Linked DNA regions of Homo sapiens: region 1 is linked to region 2. Evidence: fine-mapped expression QTL. A gene starts in region 2. The other region holds a variant in brackets. All regions are shown on one strand. Distances are from middle to middle.

What was found. PIP is the estimated chance that this variant, and not a neighbour inherited with it, causes the effect. A credible set is the group of variants that fine-mapping cannot tell apart.
Region 1: its variant is the best candidate, but not a certain one, in a credible set for the expression of SLU7 in testis (GTEx, PIP 0.56).

Annotation. Positions count from the first base shown.
Region 1 is chr5:160,381,656-160,386,060 of GRCh38, forward strand. No RefSeq gene overlaps it. Among named protein-coding and RNA genes, the nearest start is that of C1QTNF2, 13 kb to the left of the region's middle. The variant T/C (reference allele first, on the strand shown) is at 1,982.
Region 2 is chr5:160,417,319-160,421,723 of GRCh38, forward strand. SLU7 (spliceosome associated SLU7) reads right to left here and starts at 1,763. Exons shown (of 16, transcript NM_006425.5): 1 at 1,705-1,763. RefSeq lists enhancers at 1,475-1,524, 1,975-2,094, 2,105-2,174 and a silencer at 4,372-4,405.

The DNA of each region.
Region 1 (4,405 bases), 36 kb before region 2:
TTCTTAATGGAGGCTTTGGCAAATGCCAATAGGAGAACTGAAGCATTGACCTCTGGGGTGGTAGAGAAAATCCACACCCTCTTCTGTAGATAACTATTTTTCTCCTGAGAAATAGTCACTGATTTGATACTAGGCATCTAACCATGGGATAGGGTGCTATTTGATCCAGCAAGCCATAAATTGGAGTGAGCATAGCAGCAATCTATCCTCAAGTGGAAAGAAGTACAGAAGAAACAAAGATTAAGCAGATTTGGAAGGCACAAGCAAGTTGCCTGAGTAAGTGGCTTAACACCATTGACACCTACTTGTGTTGCAAGCCTTCTTTTTTCTCAATCCATAATTTAGGCTACATGGGGAGTTCTTTATGACCAGCTGACTAGCAGGAAGAAATTTAGAACTGGTTTATAATTTATTCTGACCAATATGCTGGTACAAGCTGGTTGCTGCAAAATCTATTGCAGCATTACAACCCGGATCAGGTATGTCTTGGAAAGATCCTAATGAAGGGAAAATTTCCTAGAGAAAATTTTGAGCAGTACATTTGGTTCTCTACTATGTCTGAATTGAACAATATCCAAAAGTATGGATCTAAACTGCAGTAGTCAAGGGAAGTTACTAATGGTTTGATGGACGATCAGGGACTTGGAAAAAACAGATTGAGAAGATAAGTGACAAAAAGGTGTGGGGGACAGGTATATGAATGGACCTCTTAGAATAGGCAGAGAATTAAAGATAATTGTGCTCCAGATGGATACTTACCAAACGATGTTGTGTGCCCATGAGAATGCACTTTGCAGCTGTCAACTACAGGCAACATAATTAACCAGGGTCCCCAGAGGCTGAAATTAATGCACTCTGAATTTCATCACTGTACTTGTGCCAGTTCACACTTCCTGGGAGCTCTCCCCAGCAAATGTCTGAGCGTGGCAGGAATACTTAGCCACGCCTATTGCTGGAATATATGGGTCTCTTGTGACAGCTGACTTTGGCTTGAGGTCTTCTGGACTGCCTTGCTGAACCTAAACTAACACAGACATCCATCCACTGCAGAGGAGGCTCTCAATAAACAGTAAGACAAGATGACACTCTTTCACATAGACCAATGGAAAAGATAAAAGAACCCAGAAATAAATCTACACATTTATAGCCAACTCATTTTTGACAAAGGCACCAAGAAAATAAACTTAGGAAAGGGTGGTCTCTTTAATTAGTGGTGCTGGGAAAACTGGATATCCACATACAGAAGAATGAAACGAGATCTCTTTTACAACATACAAAAATCAACTAAAAATGGATTAAAGACTTAAACCTAAGTCCAAGAACTATTAAATTACTAGACAAAAACATAGAGAAAACCCTACAGGATACTGGTCTGGGAAAAAATTTTTGAATAAGACCTCAAAAGCACAGGCAACAAAAGAAAAATAGACAAAGGGATTACCTTAAATGAATAAGCATCTGCACAGTAAAGGAAACAATCAACAGAATGAAAAGACAACCTACAGAATGGGAGAAAATACTTGCAAACTATCCATTTGACAAGAGATTAATATAATAATAAAAGAACAATATATAAAGAACTCAAGCAACTCAATAGCAAAAACTAAATAATCCAAATTAAAAATGGGCAAAAGTCCTGAATAGATAATTCTCAAAAGAAGACATAAAAATAGCCAACAGGTGTATGACAAAATGTTCAACATCACTAATCATCAGGGAGATGCAAATCAAAACCACAATGAGATATCATCTACCCCAGTTAAAATGTCTATTGCCAAAAAGACAAAAAATAATAAATGCTAGTGAGGATGCAGAGAAGGAGAATGCTCATATGTTGTTGGTAGGGATGTAAAGTGGTACAGTGAATATGGAGAACAATGTGGAGGTTCCTCAAAAAAACTAAAAATAGAACCACTATATGATCCAGTAATCCCACTGCTAAGTATGTATCCACAAGAAAGGAAATCAGTGTATCTGCACT[T/C]CTGTGTTTACTGCAGCACTATTCACAACAGTAAACATATGGAACCAACCTAAGTCTCCTTCAATGGATGAATGGATAAAGACGTGGTATATATACACAATGGAATATTATTTGGCCTTTAAAAAAGAATGAAATCCTGTCATTTGCAGCAACATGAATGAGACTGGAGGTCATTATGTTCAGTGAAATAAGTCAGGCCTAGAAAGACAAATATCACATGTTCTCAGTCATATGTGGGAGCTAAAAACATGGATCTCATGGAGATAGAGAGTAAAATGGTAGTTAGCAGAGGCTGCAAAGAGTAGGGTGGTGGTGGTGGTGGTGGGCAGGGGAGAATGCAGAGAAGTTGGTAATTAAGTAAAAAAAATTACAGTTATAAAGAAGGAATATGGGGCTGGGCATGGTGGCTCACACCTGTAATCCCAGCACTTTGGGAGGCCGAGGTAGATGGATCACTTGAGGTCAGGAGTTCGAGACCAGCCTGGCCAACATGGTGAAACCCCATCTCTACTAAAAATACAAAAATTACCCAGGCGTGGTGGCAGGTACCTGTAATCCCAGCTACTCGGGAGGCTGAGGCAGGAGAATTGCTTGGACCCGGGAGGTGGAGGTTGCAGTGAGCTGAGATCTCACCATTGCACCCTAGCCTAGACAACAAGAGCAAAACTATGTCTCAAAAAAAAAAAAAAAAAGGAATATGTTATAGCATTCAATAATACAGTAGGGAACCTATAGTTAACAGTAATTTATTGTATACTTCAAAATAGCTAGAAAAATTGTAATGCTCCCAACACAAAGAAAAATGTTTGAGGTGACAGATATTACAATACCCCGATTTGATCACGACATATTGTACACATGTGTAAAACTGTCACATGTACACCCCAAATATGTATAACTCTCAAATATCAGTTTAAAAAAAGAAAAAAAGATGACATACTCTGCGGATATCAGATGGCCTCTTTCCCCAAAATTCCCAATGACTGCCCAATAGGTCCATGTACAAGAGAGGCCATGCTGGCAAGGATGGAGACTTACATTTAGGCTCAACAACATGGACTTCCTCTCACCAAGTTTGATATGCTGAGTGCCTGACCTGCCAACAGCAGGGACCAACACTGAGCGCCTAACATAGGTACTTGGTGGCAGGTTGATTACAGTGGGCACTTTCTATTTACTGTCACTAGAAAAGATACATATTCTGGATATGACTTTGCCTTTATTATCTCTGCCAGCCTTATTAACTGTCATGGTATCATGCATCACATTACTTCTTATCAAAGATTAGCAAAGGGGTATGTATTAGTCTGCTTGGGCTGCCACAATAAAATGCCACAGACTAGGTGAATTAAACAACAGAAATTTATTCCTTACAGTGGAGGGTGTGAAGTCCAAGATCAAGGTACTGGCAAGGTAGGTTTCATTCTAAGGCCTCTTCTCTTGGCCTTGTAGGCAGCTGCCATCTTGCACAAATCTCTTGGTATCTCTTCTTCTTATAAGGGCACTAATCTCACGGGACCAGGGTCCTGCCCTCATGACCTCACCTAACCCTAACACCCTCCCAAAGGTCCCATCTCCAAGTACTGTCATATTGATGGGGGGTTAGGCCTTCAACATATGAATTTGGGGGGGAAACATTCAGTCCATAACAGAGTGTGGCAATAGACTGATGCCCATGGAATTTATTGGTTTTGTCATGTACTTCATCACCCAGAAGCATCTGCTTTGTTAGAATGATAGAATGATTTACTTAAGACTCAGTTACTTGCAACTGAGAGAAAATAACCTAAGAGGATTAGGTTCTATTTCACAGGATGCAGTATGTGCTTTGAATTGATAACCAAAGATATGTAACCCTAACTTCCAAGGTCAAAATATGAGCCCAGAAATCAAGGAGTGAAAGTGGGAGTGGCTCATTTTACTATTGCACCTAATAATCCACTCACAGAATTTGTGCTTCCCTTTGCTGCATCTGTGAACTGTTATTTTGGCAGTCTTGTTTCCCAAGAGAGGAATGCTTCCACCAGGGGATATAACAGTGGTTCTAGTGAATTGTAAGTTGAGACTGTCACTGATCATTTTGGGGTTGTGCTATGAGGATGAATTCCAGTGGGCCTGAAATTGGCCTCAGCTGTTTGCATAACACCAAATCCTGGTCAAGGCATAATATATCCTGATTAATAATATTGTTTTGTAACCTTATGTATGAGGAGTTTCAGGGTAGTTTGTACCAGTTTGTCAACACTGTTTATTGTAATAGTCAGATGAATGATTTATACCTGGAGACCTCTGTCCCTCCCGCTGTTCTCCTTCCTCCAGGGACACAAAAACTTGGTTGCTGGGGCTGGTTATGTGCCAAAAATACGCCTGTGTGAACAGCAGGGTGTAAGAAACCCCAGCTGAGGCTCCATTTTGAGCCCTCTG
Region 2 (4,405 bases):
GGTAAAATTACTTTTACAAGATTTTATTTAATGTAATATATCCAACATATTATAATTGCAAATTTGAATTAGAAAAAAAACAACTCTGTCTTTAAAAGTTGATATGGGTTTTACACTTATTTAAACTAATCACATTTCCAGTCTCAATAACCACAAGTGGCTAATAACTATCATAACGAATAGTGACACCTGGGTGCGATGGTTCACACCTGTAATCCCAGCACTTTGGGAGGCCGAGGCGGGCGGATCACCTGAGGTAAGGAGTTTGAGACCAGCCTGGCCAACCTGGCGAAACCCCGTCGCTACTAAGCATATACAAAAAAATCAGCCAGGCGTGGTGGCGTGCACCTGTAATCCTAGCTACTCGGGAGGCTGAGACAGGAGAATCACCTGAACCCAGGAGGCCGATATTGCAGTGAGCTGATATTGCGTCACTGCACTCCAGCCTGGGCGACAGAGCTAGACTACGTCTCAAAAAAAAAAAAAAAAAAATGACGCTCCAAAGGATTTTATCATTCGTACTCTAAAAACTGACATCTTTTTAACACACCTACACGGTCCACCATGGTCTGGCACCTGCCTACCTTCCAGCCTCACCATTACAACTATCCCCGCTTCCTTCTCTACTAACTACATAGACCTTCTTGTAGTTCCTCTAGTTCCTCTAACAAACCGTGCTCCCTGTAGACACTGGGCCTTTACACAAGCTCTTTCCCAGTGGAAAGTGCTCAATGCCTGGGGGTCTACGATGCTTCTCAAAGGTGTTCTCTTCTATGTCTGACCTATAGAAAACCTCCACATATATTTGTGTAACATATAAACTGATGGCCTAAATATACTGCGAAGAGAAGCACAACAACGGTAAATTTAATCTTTATTAAAACAGCTACCATTTCTCGAGCCTACCGTGTATCACCTCATCTAATCTTCACAATAAGCCCAGTAGATAGGTCTGATGAACACCATTTTACAGTGAAGAAACAGGTTCTGAGAGGTAAGATCCTCAGCCAAGAACACATTGTAGTAAGAAATAAGGACTTCAAACACAACTCTGACTCCAAAGTCAGTTCTCTAAACCAGTATGTTATACTTGTCCACAGAACATTGGCTTCTGGGCCTAAAATATTAAAAACTAAAACTGAATAAAGTATTATAGTCACCAAGTTGTACGCACTAGTTTCCGTCGCTGTGGAGGGACCTATTTTCTCCAACTAAAAACAGTAATAGCTCCCACTTACTGAGGGCTTACGTAAGACACTGTTTAGCGCTTTACTTACATAGATGTTTTCATTTATACCCGCATGATACCCCACTGAAGTCGGATCATCTCGACTTAACAGGAAAAACTGAAGCTCAAGTAAATTTTTCTGGCGAGGAAATACAGTCTGTCAATTTGGGTACTGGAAGCAGCTTTCCCTGCTCGCAGTCCGGGGATTGCTCAAGGTCTTCGAGGCACCGCCACAAAGGCGACACTCTCATAGTTATCCCGACTGTTTCCCTGAAGACGCAGGCCTGGCCTGGCAGGGCACGAGTGCCATGAATGGGTCTCAGGACAGTGGCTTTTCGGTCCCCCGTCCTCGCTCCCTCAACACCTGAGGGCTCATCACCCCCGTGAAGATATATCCAATAATTAGGAGCCTTCGACTCATTTTCTCAGGTTCCCCAACTCCCCGTCGCCCGCAAGTTCTAACAATATTTTCTTACCCAGCCCCGCCGCAGCTAGCCCCAAGTCCATCCGACAGAATCCAAGCCAATCTCGTAATGTTTACTTCCGGCTTTTCGCCTAATTCCGGCGGCCACTGCGGTAACTTCCGGATGACCGGCACATGCGCACTAATTTCCTGGCGGGGCCGGGGGCGGAGGGGGGCCCTCCAGTGCTCCTGCGCCGTGGGAAACGCGAGAACTCTAGCTGCTGCGTATCGCGCTATTTACCCGGCTTGTGGGGAGTTTCAAGTTGGGCGGCTACTTTTTGGCTTCTATTTAGGAGCTTTCTTTTAGAATCGGAGAATTTTAGGAAGTTAAAAAAAAAAAAAAAAGACCAGAACAGACAAGAGCTTAAGCCTCACCAGGGGACTATGAAATGAATGGGGAAGTTGGTGACGTATCAGCTTAAAAAAAAAAAAAAAGCAGTTAAACTTGGCACTAATTAGTAGCCAGGCTGTGTAACATGCTGGGGATTTGGTGAACAGTGTCTTCCCTCAGATTTACATCAGAGTGCGAAAGACACCGAAACAACTATTCAGATTTAGCAGCTGTGAAAAGTTGCTATGAAAAGAATACCAGGTGCTGTGAGAACATAAGGCATGTTATCATTAGAAAAAAATACGACAATTTCCATTTTGGAGAAACAGTATCTATGCTATCCCATCCCTTCTTTAAAAGTATACATGTGAAATAAAACACTGGAAAATAAACTAATTTTCGTGGTAGAATTTCTTGTGATTTTTTTTTTTCTTTGTGCTTTCTATTCTGGTTGTTCTCCCCCTCCCCCCCATAACGTGTATCCTTTTTGAATGTAAAAGTAAAAGTAGCTACCATTCCTGCCTCAATAAAATAGCCCAACATAATAGAATCTATTTTTTTCGTATTAAGAATTTGCAATACCTGGAGTTTAGGAACATAAATATTAATTTTGCTTTTACAGGGCAGTAGATGAAGAAACAGTGTCAGAGACTAGCGTGAAAGTGAATAGAGTCTATGAATCACTCAGGCTTTGTTTTTTTCCACTTAAAAATATTCCTGAAATTTGCTTAGGAGTGTTAAGGCCTAATTAGCCAAAACCACCAGGAGAGCGCATCTCGAAGAGGAATCAGAAAGCGCAGGACAAGACAGTTGAATCTTTTCTAAGACTTGAGGTCCCTCTGGAGGGTTCTGAGGAAGGTCTAGGAAAGCCGGGATTGGTTCTGGATGGGTTGCTGTTTGTAAAGAAGGATTGGGAGAAACTGATTAGGGACTAAGTGCTGTTATGAGTGAGGGTGGTTTAGCAATTGAGTATTTCCAGTAATAGGAATAGCAAAGCTGGTCTGAGGGCATCATTAGTAAGAAAACAGTGGTTATTCAGAGAGGGTGGTTATGGTTTACAGCTGCTGCATGACCTTAGGAGAAACAATGCTTTCTGTTGGTGAAAAAAAGAAGACATCCTAAGACAAACCTTGCACCTCAAAACCTCTGTAGATAGAGAATCCCCACTTGGAAGCTATAGGTGTTGTGCAGATTTAGTCTTAAAAATTAACACTTTGAGTGCTGATAATATAATATGATGATGTAAAATTTAGGAGATACAGGAGGAAATAAAGGATGGGGATAAAGGAAAAAGAACAGTGAAGGGACAATAAAGGTATGCATATTTTTCTGTCTTTCCTCTTTTCTTCACCTTAAGTTAGGCTCTTTTCTTATAACCTAGTATAATGTCCAGCATTTAATAGGTATTCAATAAATATTTGTGAATGAATGAATCATTCAATCAATATTGGTCCTGAAATGCCAGGGAAAAAGAGATGATGAACTGGCATATATTGAGAACCATGTCTATGTCAGGTATAGTGTCAAGCCTTTCGTGAAAGAGTAATATGGAATCAACTCCTCTCTCTCAGCTGATCTGCAGCTTAAAATGCATATATGGTGAACTGTGGGAAGCGGAGTTTGAATGACACAGGTCAGCCTTATGTTTTAATTTATATCTTCATCTTGTAGTTGTTCAATGTATTCCATTTTACTATAGAAACAGGAAAAGGTCGTCAACTTTTTCAAGCAAAATTTCTTTTCATATCTGGGAAATTGGAATTCCTTTTTTATATCTTTATTATCTCTCTGATATTCTCTTGCTCCCTGGCCAAGCCCTTCCAGGCAACTTTGGTTAATATATTATTGAGATGTTAGAGGTTTAAAATAAATCACTATCAAAGGATAGAATTTTAAGGGAAGACTAAATTATGTATTCATTAGAATCATAATTTTGTTCCTAAGACAGATTCGTGATGGTATAATAGAAACAGTGTCTTAGCCTGAAGTATTGAGGATAGTCCTAAGATTAGGGAACGATCAGTTCGTTCTTAATCATAAGCATAAGAGAATGACTCAAACGCTGCTGTTTGATCTACCTGTACTTACATTTCTTCTTAATTTTAAATTCTTCTCTGCTAGTATTCTTTAGACCCAACATTGGTTGTTTCCCCTATTTCTTCAATATTTCTATTTATTTTCCATCCTTTTTACAGGGTCATCTAAATAAAAATATCTTAAAGCAATAAACCATTGTTATTGAGTCAGTACCTCAGTCCATGCAGCTTAATAATATGGAGAGCAAAAAAAAAAAGCCTCTCGATTTATTTTTTAATATTACACGATCCTAGTTTTTTCTTCCCAGAAAACGTGCCACAAAGTTTGCAAGAAAGAGCTTTTGGGG